2 separate regions of the Homo sapiens genome follow, and region 2 is linked to region 1. The links come from fine-mapping of genetic effects on plasma protein levels. Region 1 holds a variant in brackets. A gene starts in the other region. All regions are shown on their reverse strands.

What was found. PIP is the posterior inclusion probability: the model's chance that the variant is causal. Protein levels are from antibody-based Olink assays in UK Biobank. Linkage for the fine-mapping came from a reference panel and not from the study's own genotypes, which makes the PIPs less certain.
Region 2: SFTPD starts here. The variant in region 1 is fine-mapped to the plasma level of the SFTPD protein (UK Biobank, PIP above 0.99).

Annotation. Positions count from the first base shown.
Region 1 is chr9:106,726,383-106,743,057 of GRCh38, reverse strand. No RefSeq gene overlaps it. Among named protein-coding and RNA genes, the nearest start is that of LINC01505, 120 kb to the right of the region's middle. The variant A/G (reference allele first, on the strand shown) is at 8,709.
Region 2 is chr10:79,946,655-79,962,611 of GRCh38, reverse strand. SFTPD (surfactant protein D) reads left to right here and starts at 13,507. Exons shown (of 8, transcript NM_003019.5): 1 at 13,507-13,546; 2 at 15,950-15,957. The coding sequence starts at 15,953.

The sequences.
Region 1 (16,675 bases):
TGCATTTCATCCCTTCATCTTTTACTAGTTGAGTGACCTTGGGTAAGTTCCTTAACTGAGTCTCAGTTTCCAAACATTTTAAAAAATGGGCTAATAAGGCCAATCTGGTAAAATATGTGAGAAGACTGAGATCCAATAGCTTCTATTTTTTAAGGCTTTTCTAATCTCCCAAACAACTGAGCATTTCCCCCATTCAATATATGTCTTGCCCAGAACTTTAATACACCTCTTAGTAGACTGTATTTTAATTATTTAATAATAAGAACTAACTTTTTGGAACACTAATTTTCATTTTTCAGGCACTGAGATAAACACTTTACATGTATTTTTCCCCCATTTAATCCTATTCATCTAGCCCTATAATCTTGTTGTGCTTATCATCCAATTTATAACTTTTTGAAGACAACACATCAGATTATTGTTCAAATTATTTCTGTCAATTATTTGCTTGGCAGATAATAGATGCTTGTGGTAGGCAGAATTATAGGAAGACCCTCAAGAATCCCACTCCATAGTGTACATACTCTATATAATCTCCTGCCTTCGAGTGTGGGAAGGATCTGTTAATATGATGGATGCCAATCTTGGGAGTAGGTTACATTATTTGGTAAAGGTGAAGAGATTTTTGCAGATGTAGTTAAATTCCCTAATTACTTGGCTTTGAGAAACTTATCCAGGGTGGGTCTAACCCAATCAGATTAAAACCCTTAAAAGAGGGACTGAGTCCTCCTGGAGGGAGAGAGATTTTCCTGATGGCCTTGAAAAAAGAAGCCTTCATGTTGTGAGAGGGCCTGTTGAAGACGGCCATGTGGCAGGAATATGACAGTGGCCTCTAGGACCTGATAGGGGTCTCCAGCTGGCAGCCAGCAAGAAAATGGGACTTCAGTCACAAAGCTGCAAGTAATGAATTCTTCCAGTAATCTGAATGAGCTTGGAAGTGGGTTCTCCTCCAGTTGAGACTCCAGATAGGAATGTAGCCCAGTAGCATCCTCATGAAACCCCAAGCAGAGAAGCAAGCTAAGCCATGACTCGACTCCTAACTCATGGAAAGTGTGAGATTATATGTATGTGTTTTTTCAAGCTACTACCTTTGTGGTAAATTGGTACGCAACCATAGAAAAGTAATACAGCACTTGATAAATGGTTGAATGAATAAATGAACCAAAGTCTTCATGCATATGCTCCAGATGCCCTTGTTATACATTCCTACAATGCTGGATCACACCTTTCCATGTTCTGGATAGCCTTCTCTTTTTTAATATTTACCCATTTAAATTCTACCCATTCTTAATGGTCCAAATCTCCCCATGAGTCCTTCATGGCACTGACCTCCAGGGAGCTCACCATCTAGGTGAAGTGGTACCACTTGGGGCTTCTCCATGATGTGATAATCTTCTGCTTGGTGCTGCTCCTTGGTGGTCTCCTGACTCCCTAGGCTTCAGGGTAAATTTGTGAGATATTTGTCTGAAGCTGACAGTAGTAATAATGCGAAGAGCTGAGCTTGACAGGAGAAAGGATGTAAGGAGAGAAGGGGAATATAGACAGAGCATTGGCCATCATCTTCCACACCAGAGGAAGAGAGAAAGAATTCTTGAACAAAAATAAATGTAGATACAAGGTAATTTCTTGATACATACATCAAAAAAGTAACATTTTAGCAGTTAGAGTACCCATCACTCAATGGGTCCTAAATTCATATTAATTTTGCATTACCTTTCTTTCTCTGTACTATCATGTCTAACAATTAAAATATTTTTGAGGAATGTCTTATATTTTACCAAATATTTTTATTTCTGTAATCTTACCACAGGTCAATGAACTAGGTATTATATTTTCATTTAACAAACATGTAAATCAAGTTATGGGGACATGGAATAATTTGCTGACAACTCAGTCACCTAAACTGTGATGAAATCAGGATTATACCTAAGTTCCTTACTCTTGATACTCTCTTTTACTAATACCCACAAGACAATAATGAAGTGTCAATGTCTGTATAAATTTATTTCAACCATATTCTGAGCTGCTGGCTGGCTCAGGCTGACAGGAGGGCAGGGAGGCTCTGACGAAGGGACTCAGAGAGGAAGACATAGTTCTTCATCCCACAATAGCTGGGAATTCTTGTGTTCATAAGAAGCATTTGAAATTGGAAATTATAATACCTAGCAGTAAAGGGAAGTGTGTGTGTGTGTGTGTGTGTGTGTGTGTGTGTGTGTATGTGTACAAATGAAAGAACATGCTTCTCTAAGCTGCAAAAGGATTTAGAAATTCCCTTCTTTAAAATGATCAAGTGGGGTGGTAATTGCCTACAAAAAATACTGCACATAGCAATGAAGGTGGAATGAGGAGATTAAATGACTCAGGGCTGGTGAAAGAGAATGAGAGGAGAATAATCTAGGAGGCTTTGGGTTCTTCAACTGGCAAGTCAATGAACTTCTCCCCAGGAAGCTGGAGATGTTGTTCTTGCCTCTGGGGGTTGCAGTGTGACATGGAAGACATGACAGAGTTAACATTTACTCATCTATTCTTGCAGAAAATTGAGTAAAAGCTTTCCTATCTCCAAATCAAGTATCAGTTATCAGTAAATTGCCTTTTCTGCTGTTGACAATTCTGTGTTCAACCCAAAAGACTTTCTTCTTTCTCTTTAGGGACACAATAATAATAAGAGTAATAATAACAATGATGATAATGATGCACAATCAATGCTTTTTAAGTGCCAGACATTGTGCTGCATGGTTTACAGATCCGATTTCATTTTGCCATGAAAATAATCCGGGGAGATTTTAATTTTTTTTAATCTCCATTTTGCAGATGAGGAAACTGCAGCTTAGGAAGGTTTAGTGGTGTGCTAAAAAACTGACATCTGGGAGAGGATAGAGTGAAGTTTGGGGAAAAGACCTGATTATATGTCCTCTGACTCTGAACAATTAAGCTATATAACCATTAAGGTCATTGAGATATATGACTTCTGAGTTATATGACCAAGGAGCTATGTGACCACTGGCCTATATATATCACAACTGAGCTATCTGTTCATAGACCTCTATAGCTACTGAGCTATACGATCACTGAGCCCACTACTGAGTTACGTGACCATGGAGACATATGACCCCTGAGGCTTATGACCACTGGGCTATGCAACCACTGAGCTATCTGGCCATAAAGCCATATGATCACTAAGCCATATGCCAAAGTGCTGTTTCACACAGGTGGTTTTAGGTATAAAAATAAATATTTTATGGTATAGAAATAAACATTCCCAGTCTACCTGTCTCACTTGGCATCTTCTTCTTCTAATTTTTATGAGCCAACAGTAACAATAGGTAAATAAAACACAGCTAAGGCTTTAAAAGAACAAGTGACATGGACATCTGACATCATGTCTCCATGCCTCACTAGTTGTGGGAACTTGATCAATTCAATTCAACAAATGGTTATGGAGCACATACTGCACATCAGATGCTGTGCTAGGACCACGTTTCCATGAAACTTAGAGAGGAAGACACGTGTCAAGTAATCAGACACAAGTGAGTGTTACAGACAGAGGGCTCTGGAAACAGTGAGCAAGGATATGTTCCCAAGTCATTTAATGGTTTTGACCAACCTTAGTCTATCCAGCTAAAAATGGAGATGATAGTAATACCTGATCTACCTATTTCATGAAAATCAAAGTATTATATATGACTGTGTTGTATGAACTGTAAAAAATATGTTAATTATCCTATTATTTGTGTTTGTTATTGTTAGAGTGATAAGATTTCTTATAAGTTACTAAGCTCCCCATTACATTTTGCTTGCCTGTGGGTATCATATCCCCAACTTGTAGTCTAAAATAATTCTTAGAAGGTACAAATTCAACACTATGCGTTAGCCAGAATGTGAATATTAACCAGCTTATGGACTTCAGAACTAATGCGTACATTAAAAATTTGAGCAACAGAAATATATTAGCATTTAATACCCTGAATCACATAAATCTTGAATAGTGAGTTGGGTGAAAAAGATGTGGATTCATAGCCTAGATATATAGTCGCCTGGAGATTACAAAACAGTAGCTGTGGCTCTGGGTTGATAAACTTGGTGGGAGATTTTACTTCTTTCTTTCCCTCTTCTGTTTTTTTCCAGTTGTTGCAAGTATTTGCCTGAAGAAAAGGAAATAGTTCTATTTACTCAAACACATATGCATTTCCCATAAACTCTACAGTCATGATCTTGAAGTGAGATCTCAAAACTAAATTTCTAAGAGAATCAGTTGGAAACTGATGCTTTATGTAGAGAAGGAAAAGCTTTTACTCAATTATCTACAATAACAGCAGGGGAAATGCTGAAAATTACTGACATAGTAAATGGATTTTTTTTTGCATAAATGTTCTCTGTTTTCAAGTTTACTTTAGTGTGAAATACCTTTATTATGAAATGGTCCCTTTATCTCATTCCCTTGTTTCTCGATAAATAGACTTTTTTTTTTGGTCAGAGGCAATGGGCCAATCATCATGGAAGATAGATTAGTCTTAAACATCTGATGGCTCCCAGGACTTGATTTTTCATAGTTAGATGGACAATGTTTGGTGTGATTGTATAGAGTGGTTTGATCTTAGAAGTAGCAGATATATCTTCCTATTTTTTCTTTTCTTTTTTTTTTAAACAGCTCTATTAAGATGTAATTTACATACCGTAAAGTTAGTCATAGAAAGTGTCCAGTTCAATGGCACAGAGTTGTGCAACCATCAACATAATCTAAATTTAGGACACTTTCATCACCTCAAAAAGAAACCCCATATTCATTAGCAGTCACTGCCATTTCCCTCCACTCTGCCATCCCCCAACAATTGCTAAAACACTTTCTGTTGCTGTGGAATTGCCTATACTGGACATTATATATAAGTTATATTATACAATACATGGTCTTTTGTGACTGATTTCTTTTACTTAGAGTGTTTTTGAGATTCAGCCACATTGTAGCATATTTCAGAACTTATCCCTTCCCATTGCTGAATAACATTCCATTGTATGAATATGCCACATTTCGTTTATTCAATGTCCTGCTTTTTTCACCTCTCTGAAATGTTTGCCTTTGTTGATAACTACTTAGAAATTCTTCTCCCTTGATTTTTATAGTACCACTTTTGGTTTTGCTCTAATTTCTCTGGCTATGATACTTCAAACTCTGTCACGGGATTCTCTTCTTCCACCCACTGTTTAACTCTTGATGCTCCTCAGATGCATCTTTAGACTCAGCAACAGGAAGCCCTGCCTGGAGCATCTTCTTGAAGGCCCCACATGTCACAGTCTCCCAGTACATTTATTAAAGGACACAAGGGCACCACTACAATTGGGATCCAGTACTCAGTACTGGGACTGTATGTCTCATAACCTTAAACAACTGCTCTCGTGACTAACGCTGTTCAGGCTTGGGGAAATCCTTCTCTACATCTGTTGACCCATGTAAAATTACATGGGTCATGTAATTTACAGTTATGTAAAACATAACTATAAAATTAATGGTTCATTTCTGAATTGAAATGTTGCTTTAATAATTTTGTTGACATCTCCAGTTGGTACTGCCTCAGTTTTCTATTTTGTCACTACCGTGAAAAGAACATGACTATATAAGAATCTTGATTACAACAACATCATTAGTGATTTTGTTGAAAAGAAGACAAGGAGATAAATTTCATGGGATAAATTTATAATAACTCATGAACTGTGCACGTCTTTTTTTAATCCCTCATTTGCACATTGCTGGGCAATCAACAGAGCATGCAGACATTCAAAATAATAATTGAACTCAGTCATCCTATTAATTTTTGCCAAATTTTAGACACATAAAAACCATCATTTTATACACTCAAACTTGTATTATTGTAAAGATATTTATCTATCTATCTATCTATCTATCTATCTATCTATCTATCTATCTATATTTTTTTTTTTTGAGATGGAGTCTCACTCCGTCACCCAGGCTGGCATGCAATGGCATGATCTTGGCTCACTGCAACCTCCACTTCCTGGGTCAAGCCTCAGCCTCCCAAGTGGCTGGGATTACAGGCACCCCCCATCATGCCCGGCTAATTTTTATATTTTTGTAGAGACAGGGTTTCACCATGTTGGCCAGGCTGGTCTTGAACTCCTGACCTCAGGTGATCCGCCCACCTCAGACTCCCAAAGTGCTGGGATTACAGGCGTGAGCCACCACATCCGGCCATAAAGGTATATTTTTAAAAGCAGGGGGATTAAACATTTTATTTAACAGCCTTTTGGTTTGATGTATTGCTTTCCATTGGTAGTCTTGCCCAAAGCCCCTCAAACATAGACTGTCTTCAGGGATCTCCAGTAGGACTCCTCTCTTTTCACTACATACCGCTTCTCAGGGTGAACTCATCCATTCTCACATTTTTAAATACCCACAATTTGCTGTGGAACCCAAATTTATTTTTTTCCAGCCCAAATTTTTCTCTTGCATGTCTTTAATGCTTAACTTGGATGCCCCACATTGGACACAATAGGTCGTTAACTAAATGCAGTCTAATTCCACTCCTTCTCAAACTGCCTTCCCCTGAAACCTGGGAATCATCTTCTCCTTGTCCTTCTTCCTCCCCTGCTTTTAAAATAGCCTGTTGGCAGTTATCTTCTACTGATTCCACTGACTTGATGTCTCTTTCATCTTCTCTTCTCTATTCCCAATTGCCACCGTCTTTGTTAAGATGTTCCTTATTTCATGTTTATTTTTCTACTAGTCGTTCTGACTCCAGGCTTGGCCCTCCCTTCCAGCAAAAGTCTGGTCAGTTTATAACCCTGCTTAAAATTTTCCAATGGAGCTTTAGGAAAAGGTCCAAATTCCTTGACATGGTATAAAGGATGTCTTGTGATCGAGCCATTGCCTCCTGTTTCTCACAGCCACCTCTTGAAATAGCTTCCCCCTTGTTCTTGTGCTCCAGTAACACTAGCTTTTGGTTTTCTGAATTGTGCCATTCCTCTTCCTGCCTCAGTGCTTTTGTACTTGCAGTTTCCTTGGTCTAGAATGTTCTCTCTTGCCTTACTCTTATCCTTTACCTAGTGTTTGGATAAGTATATGATAGAGGTCTGTCTCTACCATACAACATCTGTCCCTGCTGTGCCCTCCTTCTGGGTAATCTCTGTATATTTTTTCCTTTATAGGTTAAGCCCTAATGGTTCTCTGTCACATAGTAAAAACTCATTATATGATTGCTGAATGAATAAAAGGTTCATTCACTGTTGCATCCCCAATCTTTAGCAGAATGCATGGGGCCTAGATTAACTGCTCACTAAATCCTTAATAAATTAAATAAATAAACTCATGCATTCAAAAACAGGAATATCCAGGTAGTTGCTTGAGGAATGGCTTTTCAGAGCTTGAGTTTCCCTCAGAGGTTAGGTAACTTGTCCTTTAATTCACTGAGCTTAACCAAGTGCTGGCTATGGACAGAAACATAATAAATGCAGTGCAAGAACATGGAGTAGATCATATAGTTTGCCTCTGCCCGCATGTGTTCTAAATTCCCTTTCTTGCAACAGGTGTCAGGAGGCTGGCTTATCAAGTGGGTGTTCTAGAAGTCTAAAGGAGGAGGGAAGGGGTGGTATGTGATTTGGGCATGTAATTAAGGGACTATATATTAATAGAATCAATAGTTCAGTCTAGACCTAATCTAGTAAATCAATGGGTCACTCAGCTGAGGATGAAGACCAGTAACATGGTCCACAGCCGAGCATGGGGTCTGGGATATGAAGAGGAAGTGGCTGAGACAGGTACTGGTTCTCACCTGTTTGTTGTGATGGAGTAGGTGCAAGAACTATGCTTAAAAAAAAAATAATCCTCAAAAGTTTTAACTAATTCAGTAATCCAAATGTATTAAGATTATTTTGGCTTCAAGTAATGAAAGTGTGGTGGCACATGCCTGTTGTCCTAGCTACTTGGGAGACCGAAGCAGAAGAATCACTTGAACCTGGGAGGCAGAGGTTACAGTGAGCCAAGATTGCACCACTGGGCAACAGGAGTGAGACTCCGTCTCAAAACAAAACAAAAAAAAACAAAAACAAAAAAACCCCCTAATTCTAAGTGGCTAATACAATAAGGAAATGTATTATTTCATATTACAAGAAATTCAGAAGTAAGGGGTCTCCAGTGTTGGTTATTCAGTAGAGAGATGGTAGTATCAAGAATGAGGGTCTTTTTTTCTTTCACATCTGCCACTGTTGTCTTTATTCTCAGCCTACGATTCTCTCTTGGTTGCAAAATGGCTGCTGCAGTTGTACATAACACAGCCAGACAAGACAATGTCCAGAGAAAAAGAAGAGACCAGCTTTTCTTATGTGTCTTTTGTTGATTTTTTTTTTTGAAAAGATATGCTTTCCCACAGTTCTCCAGCTCACACCTCATTGGCTGGAATTACAACCATACCACCATGCAAACCAATGTCTGTTCAAGGGGAATGGGTTCATAACCCACTCCTGGGGCTGGAGCTAGCAGGGAGCATAGGCACCAACAGTATTTTTCTTCCCCAGGCTGCCTCTACCTTGAACTTCTGACTCAAAACCTTTGCCAAAAAAATATCCTTTTTCCTCCAAGCTCCTGCTCCACAGGAGAAGGACTGAATTTTGAAAGAATTAATGAATTTTTGTTTGTAGACTCCTTTATGTACTGGAAACATAGTTAATGGGCCTACCTCCATGGATTGGGTGTAAGTTAT[A/G]GAGCCTGGAGAGCAGTCCAGGGATGTTGGAGATTAGTTGCACGATGCATAAGAGTGATTATGTTTAATCACTCTATTTTCTCCCGCCTCTTATAAAAAGCCGCCTAGGTGTGGTTTGCCAATAGTATCAATCTGTTTCAGCTTCTAGGCCAGTAGTATTTGCAGTTATGTGGCCCTGGAGTGACATTTTCTGTCACCATTAACCAAAGGAGCCACATGAGCCTAGTATAACAGAATATTCTAATACAGAAATGAAAGGTCTTGCAGCCTTGCAGGCTGCAAAAGAAGGACCCACTCTCAGCCTATTATCTTTTGCCTGGCAGTGTGATTTCCTTAGACAAAGCTCCAAGTTTGGCTTTATATCCACAGGGAAAGAAACTGGTCAAACTAGTTTATTTTTAATCCTTTGTTTTCTCTCCACCAGTTTTTCACTTTGAAAACCTTTTTAGACCACCAAACAGATAAAGTTATGTCAAAGAAGAAAATCAATCAAGCTGAATGTTTCATATATGTTCAATTCAATTCCAAATACACTTTTCGAGAATCTACAATGAGTACAGTATAGAAACAGATATTGTGGAGAATACATAACTTCATAAACATGACATTGTACACACACATTTTCTGAGAACATGTTTTGGCTGAGTACTTGGATAAGTTTGGGGATGAATAAGAGATTTTCCTGTTTTCAAAGTATACATGTTCGGGGTGAGAGAAGGCAAAACAGACACGTAAATAATCCACAGAATTTCATTATGATATATCAGGTTAGTGCCAGTTGCTGTGGCATCAAAGAAATAACCAAGCCAAGGCTAGAAAGAAAGTGAGGGAAGCCATTGCCCTGGAAAAAATTTTTGGGTGAGTATAGAGGAAACTCTTTGCCCTAGAAGTGATATTTAGGTGAGTATTGAAGGGAAATAAGGGTTTTACAGATGACCTTGAGTCTCAGTTTTCAAAAGTAGAAATAAGACATTTACACCAAAAGCTATAAGAAAAGATAGAATGTGCAAAGTTCTCTAAGAGGGCATCATGGAATGTTTCGAGGACGATCTTTTGTTCTGGGCTTTAACTATTGAGTGGGGTATTGATGTTAGAAATGGGCCAACAGTATTCCATGCAGAGTGTACACTGTAAATGTGACAGGAATAAGACAAACTAAAATAATTTATTTTTTCAATTTTTTTTCCCTTACCCTATGTCCTAGCCTGGAAGAATTTTTTTTGTTTATTGAGTTAGCTCCAGGGCTCTTACCGGAAAGTTCTAAGAAGTCAGGGAGGCTGAAATGATACAGATATGAAGAGCTTAGGAAGGGAGACAAAAGAACCTGAAGGTGGGCTTGAAGAATATCTTGGAGTGGGAGCTTAGAGTTGGGGAGAAGAGAGACTTTAGGTGAGCCTAGGCATATCGGGGGAAAGGAAGGAAAGAAATGGGAGAAGAGAGGTTTTAGGAAGTTTTTCTATGTTCTCGCTTTGGGTATGTTTATGAAAGACTGCAGTAAAGATTAAATTATTTGTATGTCTATTTGGGTCAGGGTTGATATACCTATGACACACACTGAATCAAGATGGTGCCATATGGCACGTGGGCTTTATGTGAGTTACATTTGCTAAGGCATGAAAGTGGTAGAGCACTAGCAGAACTGGGAAGCAAGAAATCATACCATATAACTAAAAACAGGGATGTCTGAAGGGAAGTACTGGCACAGAGGTTAGGTTTATTCAAAGAAGTGGAAGGCTTAACAGTCAAGGTTAGGAAGGTGGTACGTGTTCGTGGGCAGAGCAGAGCCTCTGAAGTTTCTGAATAGGATGGCTCAGTATCAGAGTGTGTTTTAAGACAATTACATTGATAGCAACGTCGGTGGGAAAGGCGATAACAGGGTAAGGGATAACAATTAAAGAGTTATTGCAAAACCTGATGCCAAATAACAGATTTGGAAGATTTTTCATGGATTTAATTTGTTTGTTTATGTGACTCAATCAAGGGTTTGATTCTATCTGGATTCAGCCGTAGCCAGAGCTACAGGATGACAATGTGTCCACCAACCTCATTACTGTTTTTTATTTCTATTATTTAGGAGTGATGGAGGACTTACAAAGTGCTCAGGGTGGATCTGGAGTACAATGCAATAGAGCAAGTTTTTATTGAGCCCCCACCAGGTGGCTGGCACAAGGGCCTTGAGCACTGGGCTTACCATATAATTAGAGTTACCAGATCAACACACAAGCCAGCCCCCAGTGCAGAGGGAGACAGAGGGCTGTAACTTAATGAGAGGCAGATGTCAACGGGGAGCAGATGTTTGCAGCTCTTCAGTTATATCAAATTAATCATCTCCTGACTTCAAGGTGCTTCTTGGAGTCCAGGAAATTTCCCTGTAATAAATTGCTCCTGGGATTGATTTTTAAAGTGAGAATGTATTTGCCACTGTCTTGAATGCTTTAGAACAATTCTTTCTAGAAGCAGAAGAAGTTTTTTAATATGGAAAAATTTAGGTGAAGGTTAAACAAGACCAAATCTAAGTTCCCAGCCTGGTTTATAAAAAACAGAGGGGCTGACTTTTTACTAATAAAATTAGCTGCTGGTTCTGCTCCACCAGTCTGCCCACTTTTGCATTTATTTAGCAAATAATTTTCACAGACACAATATGTACTGAAGCTATAACACTGAAGGAAAATGTAGAAGCCAACCTCATGGAGGCTGCAGCATTGTAGTAAATAATCACACAGATACATCTATAATTACAAATGGGGAAAGTGCTATGCCAGAGAGTTATGTGGTTCTTGAAGATAGTTAATGCAGGGATTCGATTCAAGTCAGAGAGAGCAGAATAAATCTTTTCTAAGCAAGAGATATTAGCAGAGTTCTTCCTTCTCTCTTTTTGATCTCTTTCCTTCTCCCTTCCTTCTTCCTTCTTTGTCTTTCCCTCTCTTCCCATCTCACCTTTCCTCCTTTCTCTTTCCTCCTTCCCAGTCTACTTGCTTCCCTCCTGCCTTTTCTTTCCTTTTCTCACTTCCCACTTTCTTCCTTCCATCATCATTCCTTTCTTGTCTTCTGTTTCCCTCCTCACCCTGTCCTCCTCCCTACCCTGTACTTTTCTTCTATTCTTTCCCAAATAGTAGTTGAAAGCTTGTTAGGGACTCAAGCCCTGCACCATACCCGGAGGGTTGATGTACATACAGAGATGAACAGGAAACCATTTCTCTTCAAAGTGCCTAGAGATGATGCATAATTAGTTGAAATTCAGGACAGTAGGTATTATACTGGAAGCAGATACAGGTTTTTCTGGGAAGGGCACCAGACTTAGGCCAGGGTATTGGGAAGGAGCAGGGGCCAGGTGAGAAAATAGTTTTAGAAGTGGTGGACATTTGAGATCATTCTTAGCAGACAGCTAGGAGTTAGTTGGAAAATAGGGTGGAGGACCTTGTGGGCAGGGGAACACTCCCATGTTTAAAAACAAGAAAAGTGTGATGGGACAGTTGCATCTTGGGGAAGACAAGATATCCAGTATAACTGGGGTAAATGATGTGAGCTGGGAAGATCCAGAAGATGAGATGGTTGGAGATATGGTAGGAGCCAGATGGAGAAGAACAGTGCAATATATTGTCCTGTGGGCAGTCATTGAAAGCTTCAAGAAGAGAGCCACATAATCCAATCTACTATTTAGAAAGATCTTTCTCAACAGTAGTGTGGTCCCACCCACTCCCAGCAGATTAAAAAATCATGTATCTTTATATTTGGCTTTTCCAAAACATTATTTCAGGCTGTGAGGTCTGGCGAGGGCTGATGGCCTCAGATGTGGGAACAAAGTGAAATCTCAAGGTATTTGACTCTGACAGTATTGCAGAAGTCCCTTCACCTCTTGTCTAAGGTCTCTGTTTATAAGACTCCCCCCGCTGCCCCGCAAAAAAAAAAAAAAAAAAAAAAAAAAAAGAATGAGTAAACACCATTGGAGCATCTTAATTGTTGGGAATTTTCTATTACTGTAGTGATGATAGGTAAGCCAATTCCTTTGTTTTCAAGGTATAAAAGTAAAAGAATCCTGAAAATGATGGCAGTTCAGAAAATATTCATTATTCTTAACTATGACTTCTCAACCTCGGCACTGTTGGCATTTTGGCTGAATAATTCTTTTTTGTGAAGGGCTGTCTTACAATAAATAGTTTAATAGCTTCCCTGGCCTCTACTCACTGGATGCCAGTAGAAAATCTCTTCCAACTGAGGACTATCAAAAATGTCCCCAGACATTGTCAAATGTCCCCTGGGGGACAAAACTGCCCCCTGTGGAGAACCAGTTTTAAACCGTATGATTGGAAGTATTGTTGACATGAAGAAACTCAGATAAGATTTAGCCAAGGTGTACTCAGCAAATTCTTCATGTGTTTAGAGTCACATAGGGAGGGACTGATGGCATCTGATGCCAAGTAAATTCCAGTGTTGACTCCAGAAACATCCCCTCTCTGCACTCTCAGGCTCCTGCTAATTATGAGACCACCCCTTCCTTTCCCTCATCTCCAAATGACTCTAATGTGTTATCATGGCACAGATCCTACTTTCTCTCCAATTACAAGATCAGATGGACATTTTTCAGTTTGGCTTTCAAAGCTGGTTGCTCCTCAGAGACAGCTTTGCTAAAAGCATTTAATGATCCTTGAGGTAGCCAAGCTTTAGAGGTGCCTATCTGTGGCACTGGGCAGGATGGGGAAGCTATCCGGGGTTCTGTTAACCTTCCAGGGTTACTGCATCTTCCATTTCTCTGTCCTCCCAGAGTGAGGCCTGCTGGTTTTATTTCGGTTTTGCATTTCAGATTCCTGTTTTATAGGATGCCAGCAGCAATGTTTCAGACATTTCTAGGCATTGCATGAGGCTGCTTTTCCCCAGTTAGGTCTTGGGCACTGTAGCACAGCTTCACATATTAAAATTAGGATATCTTGGAGTCACCATTAGGCTGGTGACTAGACTTCACACCCCTTGAGAACAAGGACTCAGTCCTATTTCTTTGATTTCCCAGTGCTTATACTTAGCCGCCCTGCTGGTTGCTGAAAATGCGTATCTTCCAGGACACACAGGAGTCTTGGCCTTGCCACATTTGTCAGCAATGTGGGTTGTCTCGTCATCTGGAACCTACATTATGGTTGTGAACCCACGTTTTACCTGGAACCTTCAGCAGGGAAAGTGTACGCTATTTTTAACAGTGTCCCTTTTTTTCCTAACATGGTTCTTTAACAAGGTCGTATCATTATCAGTTATTTAATATTTCTAAAATTAGAAATCATCTCACTGCTGTGGTAGCTCAAGCTTCAGGCCAGACTCTTTGAGCCTTCTCACACTGGGGCTATTGATACAGCCTCGTGGTGAGTCTTCCCGCTCCTTCTTTTTCTAGTTTATGGTTGGATTCAAAATTCAGCCAGGCTAAACTTTTTGCTCTCTTTTGGTCAGGATTTATACTTATTTAAGGCACCGCAATAGCCACTTTTAAGCTAAAAAACTGGGATATAGCAGCCTGGTTGGAAGTCAACATTCTTACTCAGTGGTCTTATACTTAACTAGCTCAAATAGCTCTCTGACTAGCCTAGGGAAAAGGCCATGCAGTGAAAGGGAGTGGAGTAATGATTCTCTCCAAAGTGGCCCTCCCTGCTGCTCCCTCATAAATTCAACATGTATTTGGGGATAATTAAGAGGGGGCAAAGTGGAAAGCAAGTAGAAGGAAGACAAGGGAAGGGAAGATGCATGCAATCCTTCACAAAGACCTTTCATCACCTGCAGTGTGCCAGTCCCTGTGCTAAGGCCTAAAGACAGTATTATATATGGCATGGCCCTGCCCTCACCAAAGTCATAGTTCACATGAAAAGGACAGAATGAGAGCAAAAGCATCATTAAGACTATATGAAAGCACTTCCTGGAACAGAAAGAACTTTGACTATCTCAACTAATCTCTACATTGTATAGGTACTATCAGTATGCTTATTTTACAGAGGCGAAAACTGTTGCTTGGACAGATTAAGTAATGTGTCCAAGGTTACTTTTCTGATAAAGGATAGAGCCAGCTCTGGAGCCCAGATCTTCTGACTGCAAGTCCAGTGATCTCAGCAGTCAAAAGAAGAAATCTCACCTTCCCGCCTGTGACCAGCCTCCCTCCTCCACCAACAAGCCCTCTGTGATATCTCAGTATTGATGTCTTGGCAGTGTCTTTGGTCCTTGTGCCATGTCTAAAGACAATATTTACTTCTCCTCCCGTAGGGCTCCTTGCTGGCAAAAGGATTGCTCTTCAGACGTGCTGGAAAAAGATCCACAGCACACCTTCAAGGACAGCCTTAAAGCAGGAGTCTCAGGGTGGTTATTGATTACCCTGTTTCCATTTCCCATTGTGGAGCACCATTCTCAAACACCTGCAAGGGCTCTGTGGCCATAAATCAGCTCCTTGTAATAGTAATTAATATGGTGACCCACACAGGGTGAATTCTCCTTTTCCAAAGAACCTAAATAAGTGGGTCATAGAGATGAACATAACTGAAAAATGAGGGGGAACCTCCTTAATGCAAATACATTGTTTTTTTTTCTCCTGAGGAGAAATGAGGAAGGTTTACTAGCCTAAAAATGACTATCACACTAGAAAATAAGTACAAAAAGAAGTGTATAACATTAACATTTTCAATTTGCATGAACTACTTAACCTAAGTCACAGGGAGAAAACTGCGTGAAAATTTTAGCATTATGTGTAAAACATAGTAGGCATTCAGTAAATATTTGTTTTATAGTGAATGAACACATGGCCAAGTAATCCACTCAAGGTGGAAAAACTTTACTGGCTCAACTGGGCATTTTGACTATATTATGAGAAAAACAACTACTATGATGGTTAATACTGGGTGTCAGCTTGATCAGATTGAAGGATACAAAGTATTGACCCTGGGTGTGTCTGTGAGGGTTTTACCAAGGGAGGTTAACATTTGAATTAGTGGGCTGGGTAAGGCAGACCCATCCTTAATCTGGGTGGGCACCATCTAATCAGCTGCCAGCACAGCTAGAATATAAGCAGGCAGAAAAATGTGAAATGAGAGACTAGCATAGCTTCCCAGCCTACATCTTTCTCCCATGCTGGATGCTTCCTGCCCTCGAACATCGGACTCTAAGTTCTTCAGTTTTGGAATTCGTGCTAGCTCTCCTTGCTCCTCAGCCTGCAGCTGGCCTATTGTGGGACCCTGTGATTTTGTGAGTTAATACTTAACAAACTCCTCTGTCTCTCTCTCTCTCGCTCTGTGTATAGATATATACATCTATATATATATATATATAGAGAGAGAGAGAGAGAGAGAGATGGAATATATATATATATGTTCCATTAGTTCTGTCCCTCGAGAGAACCCTGACTAATACAACAACCACAAAAAATCCACCAGACTCACTGATTTTTTTCCCCCCAATAGAACTAGCCCAGTGGTGAGTGTGTGTTTGGAACAATTAGAAATTAAATGAGATTTTCGACTTGGTGCACACACCAATTGATATACATGCCCTATGATTACTCTGTGGTGCAGTGAGAAAAAAATGCAAGGGATTCAGAGTTAGAAGAGTTGGGTTGAAGCCCCAGTTCTGCCTCTTAGCAACCGTGAAACTTTGGGACAATCATTTAACCTCTCTGAGACTGGGTCTTCTCCTCTGAAGATGGAGATAACATAAACAGAGAATTGAGTCGGCAAATGGGGTTGACAATGTCTGTGGAAGTGAGCTGTCCATCATAAACTGGGATGCAAATATAGATTGGGATTCATGTTATGAATCACCAGTGTCATTAATATCATATTAATGGAACAAATGACCAACTTTTTAATTATGGTGTTAATAACTATGAACATTAATTAATTTGAAGTCGCTCCAGTCATTGCTTAGATAAGTTACCTTTTGAAGCTGGAGGAAAACTTTCCTAAATGTCACTGGAAAACCAAGGGAAGTGTGGGTTCCATTCACCCTCT
Region 2 (15,957 bases), not on the chromosome of region 1:
GGTTGTGGAGGACAATGGAGTTAAAAAACATAAGACAGGTGAATGGAGGAGAGGAAGACAGGAGAAGAACTAAAAAATAGCTTTAGAAAATTATAAAGCTATTAATAAGGAAAAAATAGGATGCATTACATGATTTTCATCATATAATGTATATTTTGTATGTAAGTATATATAAAAATATTCACTTGTGTGTATATTTACATACACAGAGCACAGATTCACATATACATAGAGAAAATAATAAAGACATGATCACCAAAATGTTAAAATTGATTGTCTAAGAAAGGTGGAGTTTTGGTGATTTTTTTTAATTATTATTATACTTTAAGTTTTAGGGTACATGTGCACAATGTGCAGGTTTGTTACATATGTATACATGTGCCATGTTGGTGTGCTGCACCCATTAACTCATCATTTAGCATTAGGTATATCTCCTAATGCTATCCCTCCCCCCTCCCCCCACCCCACAACAGTCCCCACAGTGTGATGTTCCCCTTCCTGTGTCCATGTGATCTCATTGTTCAATTCCCACCTATGAGTGAGAACATGTGGTGTTTGGTTTTTTTGTCCTTGCGATAGTTTGCTGAGAATGATGGTTTCCAGTTTCATCCATGTCCCTACAAAGGACATGAACTCATCCTTTTTTATGGCTGCATAGTATTCCATGGTGTATATGTGCCACATTTTCTTAATCCAGTCTATCATTGTTGGACATTTGGGTTGGTTCCAAGTCTTTGCTATTGTGAATAGTGCCACAATAAACATACGTGTGTATGTGTCTTTATAGCAGCATGATTTATAATCCTTTGGGTATATACCCAGTAATGGGATGGCTGGGTCAAATGGTATTTCTAGTTCTAGATCCCTGAGGAATCACCACACTGACTTCCACAATGGTTGAACAAGTTTACAGTCCCACCAACAGTGTAAAAGTGTTCCTATTTCTCTACATCCTCTCCAGCACCTGTTGTTTCCTGACTTTTTAATGATCGCCATTCTAACTGGTGTGAGATGGTATCTCACTGTGGTTTTGATTTGCATTTCTCTGATGGCCAGTGATGACGAGCATTTTTTCATGTGTTTGTTGACTGCATAAATGTCTTCTTTTGAGAAGTGTCTGTTCATATCCTTCACCCACTTTTTGATGGAGTTGTTTTTTTTCTTGTAAATTTGTTTGAGTTGATTGTAGATTCTGCATATTAGCCCTTTATCAGATGAGTAGGTTGCAAAAATTTTGTCCCATTTTATAGGTTACCTGTTCACTCTGATGGTAGTTTCTTTTGCCGTGCAGAAGCTCTTTAGTTTAATTAGATCCCATTTGTCAATTCTGGCTTTTGTTGCCATTGCTTTTGGTGTTTTAGACATGAAGTCCTTGCCCAAGCCTATGTCCTGAATGGTATTGCCTAGGTTTTCTTCTAGGGTTTTTATGGTTTTAGGTCTAACATGCAAGTCTTTAATCCATCTTGAATTAATTTTTGTATAAGGTGTAAGGAAGGGATCCAGTTTCAGCTTTCTACTTATGGCTAGCCAGTTTTCCCAGCACCATTTATTAAATAGGGAATCCTTTCCCCATTGCTTGTTTTTGTCAGGTTTGTCAAAGATCAGATGGTTGCAGATATGCGGCATTATTTCTGAGGGCTCTGTTCTGTTCCATTGATCTATATCTCTGTTTTGGTACCAGTACCATGCTGTTTTGGTTACTGTAGCCTTGTAGTATAGTTTGAAGTCAGGTAGCATGATGCCTCCAGCTTTGTTCTTTTGGCTTAGGGTTGACTTGGCAATGCAGCCTCTTTTTTGGTTCCATATGAACTTTAAAGTAGTTTTTTCCAATTCTGTGAAGAAAGTCATTGGTAGCTTGATGGGGATGGCCTTGAATCTATAAATTACCATGGGCAGTATGGCCATTTTCACGATATTGATTCTTCCTACCCATGAGCATGGAATGTTCTTCCATTTGTTTGTATCCTCTTTTATTTCATTGAGCAGTTGTTTGTAGTTCTCCTTGAAGAGGTGCTTCACATCCCTTGTAAGTTGGATTCCTAGGTATTTTATTCTCTTTGAAGCAATTGTGAATGGGAGTTCACTCATGATTTGGCTCTCTGTTTGTCTGTTATTGGTGTATAAGAATGCTTGTGATTTTTGTACATTGATTTTGTATCCTGAGACTTTGCTGAAGTTGCTTATCAGCTTAAGGAGATTTTGGGCTGAGACGATGGGGTTTTCTAGATATACAATCATGCCATCTGCAAACAGGGACAATTTGACTTCCTCTTTTCCTAATTGAATACCCTTTATTTCCTTCTCCTGCCTAATTGCCCTGGCCAGAACTTCCAACACTATGTTGAATAGGAGTGGTGAGAGAGGGCATCCCTGTCTTGTGCCAGTTTTCAAAGGGAATGCTTCCAGTTTTTGCCCATTCAGTATGATATTGGCTGTGGGTTTGTCATAGATAGCTCTTATTATTTTGAGATATGTCCCATCAATACCAAATTTATTGAGAGTTTTTAGCATGAAGGTTGTTGAATTTTGTCAAAGGCCTTTTCTGCATCTATTGAGATAATCATGTGGTTTTTGTCTTTGGTTCTGTTTATATGCTGGATTACATTTATTGATTTGTGTATGTTGAACCAGCCTTGCATCCCAGGGATGAAGCCCACTTGATCATGGTGGATAAGCTTTTTGACGTGCTGCTGGATTCGGTTTGCCAGTATTTTATTGAGGATTTTTGCATCAATGTTCATCAAGGATATTGGTCTAAAATTCTCTTTTTTGGTTGTGTTTCTGCCAGGCTTTGGTATCAAGATGATGCTGGCCTCATAAAATGAGTTAGGGAGGATTCCCTCTTTTTCTATTGATTGGAATAGTTTCAGAAGGAATGGTACCAGCTCTTCCTTGTACCTCTGGTAGAATTTGGCTGTGAATCCATCTGGTCCTGGACTTTTTTTGGTTGGTAAGCTATTGATTATTGCCACAATTTCAGAGTCTGTTATTGGTCTATTCAGAGATTCAACTTCTTCCTGGTTTAGTCTTGGGAGGGTGTATGTGTTGAGGAATTTATCCATTTCTTCCAGATTTTCTAGCTTATTTGTGTAGAGGTGTTTATAGTATTCTCTGATGGTAGTTTGTATTTCTGTGGGATCGGTGGTGATATCCCCTTTATCATTTTTTATTGCGTCTATTTGATTCTTCTCCCTTTTCTTCTTTATTAGTCTTGCTAGCAGTCTATCGATTTTGTTGATCCTTTCAAAAAACCAGCTCCTGGATTCATTAATTTTTTGAAGGGTTTTTTGTGTCTCTATTTCCTTCAGTTCTGCTCTGATTTTAGTTATTTCTTGCCTTCTGCTAGCTTTTGAATGTGTTTGCTCTTGCTTTTCTAGTTCTTTTAATTGTGACGTTAGGGTGTCAATTTTGGATCTTTCCTGCTTTCTCTTGTGGGCATTTAGTGCTATAAATTTCCCTCTACACACTGCTTTGAATGTGTCCCAGAGATTCTGGTATGTTGTGTCTTTGTTCTCGTTGGTTTCAAAGAACATCTTTATTTCTGCCTTCATTTCGTTATGTACCCAGTAGTCATTCAGGAGCAGGTTTTTCAATTTCCATGTAGTTGAGCAGTTTTGAGTGAGTTTCTTAGTCCTGAGTTCTAGTTTGATTGCACTGTGGTCTGAGAGACAGTTTGTTATAATTTCTGTTCTTTTACATTTGCTGAGGAGAGCTTTACTTCCAACTATGTGGTCAATTTTGGAATAGGTGTGGTGTGGTGCTGAAAAAAATGTATATTCTGTTGATTTGGGGTGGAGAGTTCTGTAGTTGTCTATTAGGTCTGCTTGGTGCAGAGCTGAGTTCAATTCCTGGATATCCTTGTTAACTTTCTGTCTTGTTGATCTGTCTAATGTTGACAGTGGGGTGTTAAAGTCTCCCATTATTATTGTGTGGGGGTCTAAGTCTCTTTGTAGGTCACTAAGGACTTGCTTTATGAATCTGGGTGCTCCTGTATTGGGTGCGTATATATTTAGGATAGTTAGCTCTTCTTGTTGAATTGATCCCTTTACCATGATGTCATGGCCTTCTTTGTCTCTTTTGATCTTTGTTGGTTTAAAGTCTGTTTTATCAGAGACTAGGATTGCAACCCCTGCCTTTTTTTGTTTTCCATTTGCTTGGTAGATCTTCCTCTACGAAGGAGCCTATGTGTGTCTTTGCATGTGAGATGGGTTTCCTGAATACAGCACACTGATGGGTCTTGACTCTTTATCCAATTTGCCAGTCTGTGTCTTTTAATTGGAGCATTTAGCCCACTTATGTTTAAAGTTAATATTGTTATGTGTGTATTTGGTCCTGTCATTATGATGTTAGCTGGTTATTTTGCTCGTTAGTTGATGCAGTTTCTTCCTAGCCTTGACGGTCTTTACATTTTGGCATGTTTTTGCAGTGGCTGGTACCAGTTGTTCCTTTCCATGTTTAGTGCTTCCTTCAGGAGCTCTTTTAGGGCAGGCCTGGTGTTGACAAAATCTCTCAGCATTTGCTTGTCTGTAAAGTATTTTATTTCTCCTTCACTTATGAAGCTTAGTTTGACTGGATATGAAATTCTGGGTTGAAAATTCTTTTCTTTAAGAATGCTGAATATTGGCCCCCACTCTCTTCTGGCTTGTAGAGTTTCTGCTGAGAGATCCACTGTTGGTCTGATGGGCTTCCCGTTGTGGGTAACCCGACCTTTCTCTCTGGCTGTCCTTAACATTTTTTCCTTCATTTCAACTTTGGTGAATCTGACAATTATGTGTCTTGGAGTTGCTCTTCTCGAGGAGTATCTTTGTGGCGTTCTCTGTATTTCCTGAATTTGAATGTTGGCCTGCCTTGCTACATTGGGGAAGTTCTCCTGGATAATATCCTGCAGAGTGTTTTCCAGCTTGGTTCCATTCTCCATGTCACTTTCAGGTACACCAATCAGACATAGATTTGGTCTTTTCACATAGTCCCATATTTCTTGGAGGCTTTGTTCATTTCTTTTTATTCTTTTTTCTCTAAACTTCCCTTCTCGCTTCACTTCATTCATTTCATCTTCCATCACTGATACCCTTTCTTCCAGTTGATCGCATCAGCTCCTGAGGCTTCTGCATTCTTCACGTAGTTCTTGAGCCTTGGCTTTCAGCTCCACCAGCTCCTTTAAGGACTTCTCTGCATTGGTTATTCTAGTTATCCATTCCTCTAATTTTTTTCACAGTTTTAAACTTCTTTGCCATTGGTTTGAATTTCCTCCTGTAGCTCCGAATAGTTTGATCTTCTGAAGCCTTCTTATCTCAGCTCATCAAAGTCATTCTCCGTCCAGCTTTGTTCCGTTGTTGGTGAGGAGCTGCATTCCTTTGGAGGAGGAGAGGCACTCTGCTTTTTAGAGTTTCCAGTTTTTCTGCTCTGTTTTTTCCCCATCTTTGTGGTTTTATCTACTTTTGGTCTTTGACGATGGTGACATACAGAAGGGTTTTTGGTGTGGATGTCCTTTCTGTTTGTTAGTTTTCCTTCTAACAGATAGGACCCTCAGCTGCAGGTCTGTTGGAGTTTGCTAGAGGTCCACTCCAGACCCTGTTTGCCTGGGTATCAGCAGCGGTGGCTGTAGAACAGCGGATCTTGGTGAACCGCAAATGCTGCTGCGTGATCGTTCATCTGGAAGTTTTGTCTCAGAGGAGTACCCGGCCGTGTGAGGTGTCAGTCTGTCCCTACTGGGGGGTGCCTCCCAGTTAGGCTGCTCTGGGGTCAAGGACCCACTTGAGGAGGCAGTCTGCCCGTTCTCAGATCTCCAGCTGCGTGCTGGGAGAACCACTACTCTCTTCAAAGCTGTCAGACAGGGACATTTAAGTCTGCAGAGGTTACTGCTATCTTTTTGTTTGTCTGTGCCCTGCCCCCAGAGGTGGAGCCTACAGAGGCAGGCAGGCCTCCTTGAGCTGTGGTGGGCTCCACCCAGTTCGAGCTTCCCGGCTGCTTTGTTTACCTAATCAAGCCTGGGCAATGGCAGATGCCCCTCCCCCAGCCTCACTGCCACCTTGCAATTTGATCTCAGACTGCTGTGCTAGCAATCAGCGAGACTCCGTGGGCGTAGGCCCCTCCAAGCCAGGTGCGGGATATAATCTCCTGGTGTGCCATTTTTTAAGCCTGTTGGAAAAGCACAGTATTAGGGTGGGAGTGACCCGATTTTCCAGGTGCCATCTGTCACCCCTTTCTTTGACTAGGAAAGGGAACTCCCTGACCCCTTGTGCTCTTGAGTGAGGGAATGCCTCGCCCTGCTTTGGCTCGTGCATGGTGCGCTGCACCCACTGTCCTGCAACCACTCTCTGGCACTCCCTAGTGAGATGAACCCGGTACCTCAGATGGAAATGCAGAAATCACCCGTCTTCTGTGTCGCTCACACTGGGAGCTGTAGACTGGAGCTGTTCCTATTCGGCCATCTTGGCTCCATCCCCATTTTGGTGATTTTAAACTTTTTTCTCACAATGTTAACATTTTCACAATAAATATATAAATCATTTTCATATAAAATCAGATGGATTCTATAACGATTTTTTAAGTCATGCTTTTAGATGAAAATTCTGTTTTTTTGAAATTAGTATGGTTGTATCTCTTTACTTCCCGCCAACATTTGCTTCATATTTTTTTCTGCCTCTTTGTCTTTGACTCAGTTATCAATAGTAAGATTAAAAGACATGCTCTTTCTCAGTAGTTTCAAATGATGCAGGAGACAGAAGTAATACCAGTCAGGATGCAGTAGAGATGTTTCTCTTTAACCACTCCTTTCTCTAGTGAATAATAGAGCTACACAGTGAAGTGTTTTTCCTTTATTGTGTTAATATTTAAAGAAACAAAGAGTAAAGTGCCTAGAATTCTCATCCAAAAAGGTAGTTTCAAGCACTCTCACTTTGTCATTTTTATTAGGTTAGACATTCATAGAACCTGCATATGCATGTGAATTGGATTCAGCCCATTGACAATTGTTGCAGAATCTAGTGAACAGATTAGATTGCAACAACAGATAGCACCTGAGCATAAGCAATCCTACCTTTTCTGTGAGGTTGTGGTGGAGAGAGGGGGTGGAGGATTACAGGTTTAGACTATCAAGCTTCAAGATTTTGCAGAACATAAGGTATGGCAGGGTTTTCTTTGTTTGTTTGTTTGTTTGTTTTGTTTTGTTTTACTTCAGGATCCCTATATTTGTCTTTCTTTGCAACTTAGTTGCAAAGCAAGGTGGTAAATATTTTAAGATAAAACCTTACTCTTCAAAACATTATAATTATAGTCTCATGACACCAAGAAGATAGCAGCACAGAAGATCCCCAGCCTTCCTTCCTGCTCAGAAATACCAATTTAACAACTATTCATGGACAAAATGCCTTTATAAAACATTTGGGATCCAAGTAAAAGGTTCCAGCTCCTTGGTGTTGGGGTGATCAGACCCAACACCAGGCTGTGGGGGCTACGAAGTCTGGTGGAGTCAAAGGAATGAGAAAAGACAAGTTGAGAAATTGGCACCAGGGGACCACTGCTAGTATGGAGGCTGCGAAGGCCCCAAGCTCTGGAGGCCCAAGCTATTTATTGGTGATCAAACAAAGAAACAGGTGGTGAGGATGTGGGGGTTGAAAGGAAGTGGTGTATCAAGTGAATGAGCTATAGCTGTGATGGTTTAGCATTTTCTTTGAAGCATATGGCTACTTGAGATAATGGGAGTGCTAGAAGCAAGGAGCCAGCAAGTCTAGATACATTCCCAAGGCCACCAGGGGTTTTAGACTCTGCACTGTGGACTTGTTCCAAGCCCTGCCTTGGCTTCTCTCCCAACACTCAGCTTTTCTCCTAACACTTGGGGGACTTAAGACTGCAAAAAGCCTCATTGAGAAGGAAATCCTATTCCCTTATTAACAGACTTGTCCATCCAGGGCCCCAATAGAAGGCTAGTCAACAGAACTCAAACAGCTCCACCTCCTGCAAACTAGCAGTGACCATGCACACTAGCAGACCTGTTGGTGATCCTCTCCATCCACAAACTCCAAGGCAACCTGCCCACCTGCAGACCCCTACTGCAGCACCCACCACCCACCCACCACTACAACAATTAGCCAAATATACCTGCAGATACTGACAGCAGGCAGACCCCACCTGCAGACAATGGCAATAGGCCTGCTCAAATGTGTACCCCAGCAGCAGGTCCTCCATGTGCGGACACCTGCAGCAAGCACACACATGCAGCAAACCTACCCACAGATTTCAGCAATAGGCCCACCTGTGGTCACCAACAGCGGGTTGTCTGCTGACCCTATCAGCCAACCTACCCAGAATCTCTGATCTGGCTGCTTGTACAAATGCAGACTCACCAATGCAAGCATACAAGGATCATAAAGAATCAGGCAAACATGACACCATGAAATAAATCTAATAAAGCTCCAGTAACCAAACCAAAAGAAATGAACCAAACCAAACCACAATCTGCTCAACAGATAATTTCAGATAATCATCTTAAAGAAGCTCAACAAGATACAGGAGAACACAGAAAGGCAATGAAAAAATATCAGGAAAACAATACATAAACAAAATTAGAAGTATAACAAAGAAATAAAAACTATATAAAAAAAAAAACCCACAAAAATCCTGGAACTGAAGACCTCAAGGACTGAATTGAAAACTGAATAGAGCACTTCAACAGGAGATTCAATCAAGTGGAAGAAAGAATTAGCAAATTCATAGACAGGTCATTTGAAATTATCCAATCAGAGGAACAAAAAGAAAAAAAGAATAAAAAAGAGTAAAGAAAGCCTATGGGACTTATGGGACACGATGAAGCAAACCTTTCTGTGTATTATGGGTGTCCCAGAAGTAGAAGAGAGAGAAAAGGGGGTAGAATTTAAAGTAATTTAAAAAATTTAAAGAAATAGTAACTTTAAACTTCCCAAATTTAGGGAAGGAAACAGATATCTAGATTCATGAAGCCCAAAATTTCCCAAATAGGACAAACCCAAAGAGGTCTATACTGAACACATTATAATTAGTTTGTCCAAAGTCAAATACAAAGAAAAAAAATTGAAAGCAGCAGGAGAAAACTGACTTGTCACATAAAAGAGAACCTCCAAAAGACTATCACGAGATTTCTCAGTGGAAACCCTGCAGACCAGGAGAGAATGAAATGATATATTCAAAGTACTGAAAGAAAAAAAAAAAAAACCCACCTGTCAATCAGGAATTCTGTACCCAGCAATGTGTCTTTTATTAGTGAAGGAGAGATAAAAACTATCCCAGACAAACATATACTGAGGGAGTTTGTCACCACTAGGTCCACCTTGCAAGAAGTGCTAAAGGAAGTTCTCGAGGTTGAAATAAAAAGAGGTTAAACAGAAACACAAATGCACACAAAAGTATAAGTTTCACTGGTAAAAGTAATTATAAAGACAAGTAGAGTTTTCCTTTCCCCAAGATGGCTGTCTAGAGACATTGGACACCAGTTCTCCTCAGAACAAAGAACCAAAATTGCAGTTGAATAATCATGGTCTGAGTGGAATACTGAGGAATGAGTGACATGACCTATTGGGGAACCCACAGGAAAAAGCTGTGGTGCTGAAAAAGAAGACAGCAAGAGTTTTGCAGAGATTGACTTCCAAGGAACATAGAGTCCCATGGAGAGGGTAGGAGGGGAAGTTGCTCCCCTCACTCCTGTGGCAGACTATGGACTGCTGAACTTGTTGGAGAAACCCTCTGCACCTGTGAGCCCAGGCATTGCTGTCAGTGGCAATTTGGGAACTTCTTTAGGGCAGAGCATTGGGTGGCCAGCTCATGCAGGCACACTCGCTCTCCCCCAAAACCTGAGTTGAAGTGGCAGGTGTCATACTGGTTATGCACCCATTGTGGGTCTGTTCTTCCCAAGGAATCCCAGCCCTTGTGTTTCTGCATCACTAGATCCTCCATGAACATTCCCCAGAACCCACTTAGACTGCAGCAACCACAGGGGACGGGTGGGACCCTGGGGAGCTATGGAATTCCTAGAAGTCTAGCTCTTAGGAGAAGGGAGAGTGTCTGTGCCAACGTACTCCTTTGGATAAAAGAAACCAGTTCATTTGCTCTCCTCTGCCTAAGAGCTCCCCACGTGTGAGAAGAGGCTGGCTGTGCCCCTCCCAGCAGAGACACAGGCATGGTTCTGGGGTCTGAAGGGGAGGAGTGTGGTTCTGCACCAGTAGGCAGGTGACACTGGTGCCTGGGAATAAACATGGAAAGGGAGTCTTCTCCTACCCCCTCACTCAATGCTCCAGATAGACCGTTGGCTGTCCCTACTGGGAGCTGGCACAAGTGCACCTGGGGATGGCTTTTGAGGGCTCCTGGGGGCAGCTGCACTCCCATTGATGGGGTGCCTGCTGGCCAAGCCTTGCACGAAGGGCAGAGTTTATCCTCCTCCCCATATGGAGCAGCAGCATTCCCATAGCAGAATGCAGATGAATATCAGAGCTGCTGAGGGAAGAGGTTCTATCCCAAGGCCATTTTGGTGGTAGCCACAGGACGGGTGTTTTCTGCAGACCTCCATCACACTGCAGCCTGGAGATGAAGGACAATGTCTATCTGAACTGAAGGTCACAAGCTCCGGGACAAGGGTGTTTTAGGAAAGTGGATTGCCTTCCTGCCTTCCCAGGATGTGGAGCTGGTATACTCCTTCCCACTCTGGTGGAGACATCAGTGCCTTTCACCATGAGCTCCCATTTCCACTCCCATCAAGGCAGTTGCTTCTGCTCATAATTGGGGTTTCCCAGGGTGAGCTTGGTCGTTTAGTGCCCCTCAGTTTTGTGTCCCCCTCCAAAGCTTTGTGTTCCCTTCAGGGAATCAGGCCATCCACAGACCAGCCAACTGCCTGTGACAACAGAGATCCCCTCCCAGAAAACAAAGACCAAGTACCCATCAGCTTATGCCACAGCCAGCTTTTATTGGGATGCAGATTGAATTGCACAACCAAATAAAAAACAGGCTGACAGAGGGTATAGTGCTGGGGAATGAGATAAACTTTCAGAGACTTCCACATTCCCAGCCCCTCAGAAGGTAGTATTCCTGCTCATATGCCCAATACATTGCTACTACAATCAGCATAATAAAGCCACCACACAAAAGCTATCTATACAGCATAATAAAGCCACCACACAAAAGCTATCTATGACCAAGGAACTCATACAGAGCTGTGACCCACGGAAGGCACCCAAAATTGAAGCCAAATGATCACACACAACATACAGTCACACCTTCAAAGGGGGAAAAAATCCCATTCAAATGAGAGTAAGTTCAAAAGTAAGAAGTAACGGGTTCTCTAGATGAGAAGAAATCAGCATAAGCACTCTGGAAGTACGAAAAACCAGTATTTTGACATGCCCAAAGGATCACACCAGCTCCCTAGCAATGGATCCTAACCAATATAAAAATTTTGAAATAACAAATAAAGAATTTAAGATATGAGTTGTAAGGAAGCTCAATGAGATACAAGAGAAAGTTGAAAACTAACATAAGGAAATCAGAAAAATAATTCAGGATATTAATGAAAAATTTACAAAAGAGATAGAGATTAAAAAACAAAAACCAAATAGAACTTCTAGAAATAAAAATTTATTGAAGGAACTATAAAATATAGTTGAAACTTTTAGCAAAAGACTAGACCAAGCAGAAGAAATAATTTCAGAGCCTGAAGGCCAGTCATTTGAATTAACCTAGTCAGACAGAAATACAGAAAAAATAAATTTTTAAAAATGAACAAAGACTTTGAAAAATATAGAATTACATAAAGTTACCAAATATACAATATATAGACATTCCTGAGGGAGAAGAAAAAAAATTAAAAGCTTGGAAAACCTATTTGAGGGAATAATTCAGGAAAACTTCCCTGGTCTTGCTAGAGAATTAGACATCCAGATAGGAGATGCTCAGAGAACACCTGGAAGATGCTTTACAAGAGAAACCTCATAAAGGCATATCGTCATCAGACTATCCAAAGTCAATGTGAAGGAAAACATCCTAAAAGCAGCAAGAGAGAAATGTCTAATCTATACAGGAAAACCCAACAGACTAACAATGGACTTCTTAGCAGAAACCTTACAAGCCAGAAGAGATTGGGGTCTTATGTTTAATCTACTTAAACAAAAATCCTGCCAGCCAAGAATTTTGTATCCTGCTAAACTAAGCTGCATAAATGAAGGAGAAATAAAGTTTTTCCCATACAACAAATGCAAAGGGAATTTGTCACCACAAGACCAGCACTACAAGAAATGCTTAAAGTTCTAAACATGGAAATGAATGGACAATACTCCTCATCATAAAAGCACATTAAAGTGAAAAACTCACAGATTATATAAAGCAATTACATAATTGAGACTAAAAAGCAACTGGGTAACAATTATCATGACAGGAACAAAACATCACATATCAATATTAACCTTGATAATAAATGGAGTAAATGTTCCACTTAAAAGATACAGATTGGTGCTGGGTATGATGGCTTACACTTGTAATCTCAGAACTTCGGTAGGCTGAGGCAGGAGAATTGCTTGAGACCAGGAGTTTGAGACCAGCGTGGGCAACAGAGTGAGACCCCATCTCTGTAAAAAATTAAAAAGAGAAATTAGCCAGGTGTGATCATGCTCACCTGTAAAGAGGCTGAGGCAGGACAATCACTTGAGCCCAGGAGTTTGAGGCTGCAGTGAGCTATAAATGCATTATGGCACTCTAGCCTGGGTGACAGAGTGAGACTGTCTCAAAAAAAAAAAAAATACATACAGACTAAAAGATTGGATAAAAGTAGCATCAGCTCAGGGGTCCTAACTAGTTACAAGAACAGTGCACAAGACAAACACCAGCTAAGATGGCAGGGAGAACAAGCCTGAACAAGGCAAGGCAGAGGTCTGCTAAGGGAAATCCATCCCACAAAAGACAAGCAAGGCAGGGGCTCTCTGAGGCCTAGAGCAGCATGCAAAAGAGCAACTCTTTCCAGGTGGCAGCTCCCTAGCTGCTGCCCCCACATGCTGCTGCCTCTGCAGCCACTCTACCTGCCCCACCCCTGCCCAGGTATTCCAAGCAGCTCTCAGCTCTTTCCCAATATCTGGGCAGTGCTGTTGAGACAAAGGAAGAGGAGAAGTGGACACAGCAGGTCTTGGCTCTTAAGATCTGCAGTTGTGAGTTCCTTTTGCAATCGCTGTAGGTCATTGTGCAACCTGCTGGTCTCTGGACTCCTGATTTCTAGACATCTATAAAATACAGACACTGATGATGCCACTTAATTCACAGAGCTGCAGTGAGAAAGGTGCAGATGAGTTCAAGGCCTGATAGTGTTCTGCAAACTATAGTGATGGATGTGCATAGTATTGTGAATATCAGTGGCAGGTTTCCAGAACGCAGGTGGGGATAAGAGTGAGTGAGTCAATAAAGAAGAAAATTGCCCCACTTCTTGAAGGGAGTTTTTGGGGCTGGGCAGCTCAGGGTACAGGGCAGGCATAAATAGTGAGTGCCTGCCAAGCAAAGGCTAGTTTGCTTGGAGCTCCTGGGGCCTAACAAAAAGAAACCTGTAAGTGTCTCTGTTCTTGCCTTCTTTTTATTTTCTCCACATCCTATAAATATCCCTCTGCCGACCTGGGCAATTCAACCTATTGGTGTGGAGGGTCTGTGTAGCTGTTCTGGTCTAGGAGGCATGGGCGCAGGAGGTGGGGAGCACAGGAGGTCTTATGGTGCTCTTCTGCCCCTTATTCAGTGGCCTCAGCCCAGGGGAGGATTTGCTTTCTGAGCTGGGGGTGCACAGGGTGGAAGAGTGGGTGTGACACTATCTAGACCTGGGATGCCACAGTGTGGAAGCTTCAGGTGGAAAAATGCAATGCTAATTTATCTCTAGGCTCTTTTCTGCACTGATTTCTTCAGAAAGGACAGTGGAAGAGAGACAAACCCAGGCACTCACAGGCTGGGGTTCTAAACCCATCCTGGTGCCAACAGCCTGTGGAAAAGCAGGGCAAGCCTGTTTTTCTCATAGCTTCAGGTCTTTACTTTAAAAAATATACTTACTGGAGTAGGTCTCTGATTTTCCAATCCATGTTCAGAGGAGATGGCCTTTTCAATGAAATTGTACTCTGAAAGCTTAGCATAAACTGGGCACTGCAGGGGTTGAGGGGGACCACAACTCTGCCCACTCCATCTGCTGCCCCAGCTAAGATGCCTCATCTGAATCCTGGGCCTGAAAACCCGGGTCTGCCCTCTCCAAGTGTCCTTCAAGCCACAGTGGCTGCTGGTGCCTTCTGTGCCATCTTGAGCCTGTAGACAGAATGCCTATTGCCTTTCATTCTTCCCCAGAATCAGACACAGGGCCTGAGGGGTGAGGGAGCTGCGGGGCACAGAACAATGCCCTTGCTCTGGCCTGGGTCTGGCCCTTGCTGCTCATGATTGAGCCTCTGCCAGAACAGGTGTAACAAGGTAGCCGCTGCTGGCAGTGAGCTCACCCAGGTGTTTCTAGAGACTACCAGGATACCCAAGGAAGTGGTGATTTCAAAATTGAAAGAGGCTAGTGAGAAATAGGGGTCATCCACAGCCCAGAATCACCAGCAGTCAAAGAAGAAGGCACTCCTCTGGGCAGGAAGCCCCCCACTTGCCACCACCCCAGTTGGCCTGGTGACCCCTTTCTTTGCACAAGTCCCTCTGGCTTTGTTCCTAGCCTCTGCGAATCTGATCAGCTCTTTTCACTCTCATAACTTTACGGTTTCTCATTGAGAGAAAAGATACCCAAAACAGTTAATGTCCCAGGTCCTGCTCTTATCCTGGTCTCAGTTCCTGACCATCTTAGATAGTAAATGGGTGCCCTGTTGGGTAGTTGCTCTTGCTTACCCACAACACTAGCTTTCTGCCTGACTGAGCCTACCTGGCATGTCCTCTTTCCATATAAGACTTCTTTTTTTTTCTGAGATGGAGTCTCACTCTCTTGCCCAGGCTGGAGTGCAGTGGCACGATCTCGGCTCACTGCACCCTCCACCTCCCGGGTTCAAGAGATTCTCCTGCCTCAGCCTCCCGAGTAGCTGGGATTACAGCACGCACCACCACATCTGGCTAATTTTTTATACTTTTAGTAGAGATGGGGTTTTGCCATGTTGGCCAGGCTGGTCTCGAACTCCTGACTTCAAGTGATCTGCCCGCCTCGGCCTCCCAAAGTGCTGGGGTTACAGGCATGAGCGACCGTGCCCAGACTCCACATACTTCTTTTCCAAACCCTCTCAGGTCTTAGAAGAACTCTAGGTGTCTCAGGATTTCTCCTACTGCTAGTTTAGTGTCTCTGAAAACTTTCACCTGGGTTCCCTCTGGGACTTTTCTCTAGAGACAGCACCTGCTCGAGGAATGGCAAATTGCCAGGCAAATGTGCACCACACTCCCAGCCTGCGCTCAGGAAGGACATTACTAAGCACTCAGGACTCTGGCTGCATTTTCAGACCAGCACTATCAGCACCAGTGCTAGTCCATGCAAGGCAGCAAGAGAGAAGAAACAGGCTTGCCTTGTCTGAGCTAAGCCAGTTGCCTCAGTGGTACAGACAGGGAGATGGTCTAGGGAGTGGGCGGGGGGTGTCCTGCCCAGAGGCACTCAATGAACCCTTCTTGATGTGACAGATGGCCCCAGTGAGGAATGCTACATCCTAGCCACTGTGCCAAACTTAGTGCCCAAGGGAAGGCACAAGAAGGGAAGACATGAGCACCTGGGAATGGGGGATGCTGCTGTCAACCTATGTCAGAGTTCCAGCTGGGTAACTCATGCTCTCCATCCAGACCTTGTGCCCTCCTTGTCCTTAAACTGCTTTTGGATTCCTGCTGCTCTAGGCCCCATAGCAGAGGACAGAAGGAGGGAATGGGGGCTTCTTGTCACCTCTAGAAGCTGAGCCAAGCCCTAAACCATGTCCATGAAGCATAAGCATGTCTTTTCTCTTTCTGTTCACCTCTCCAGGCCATGCT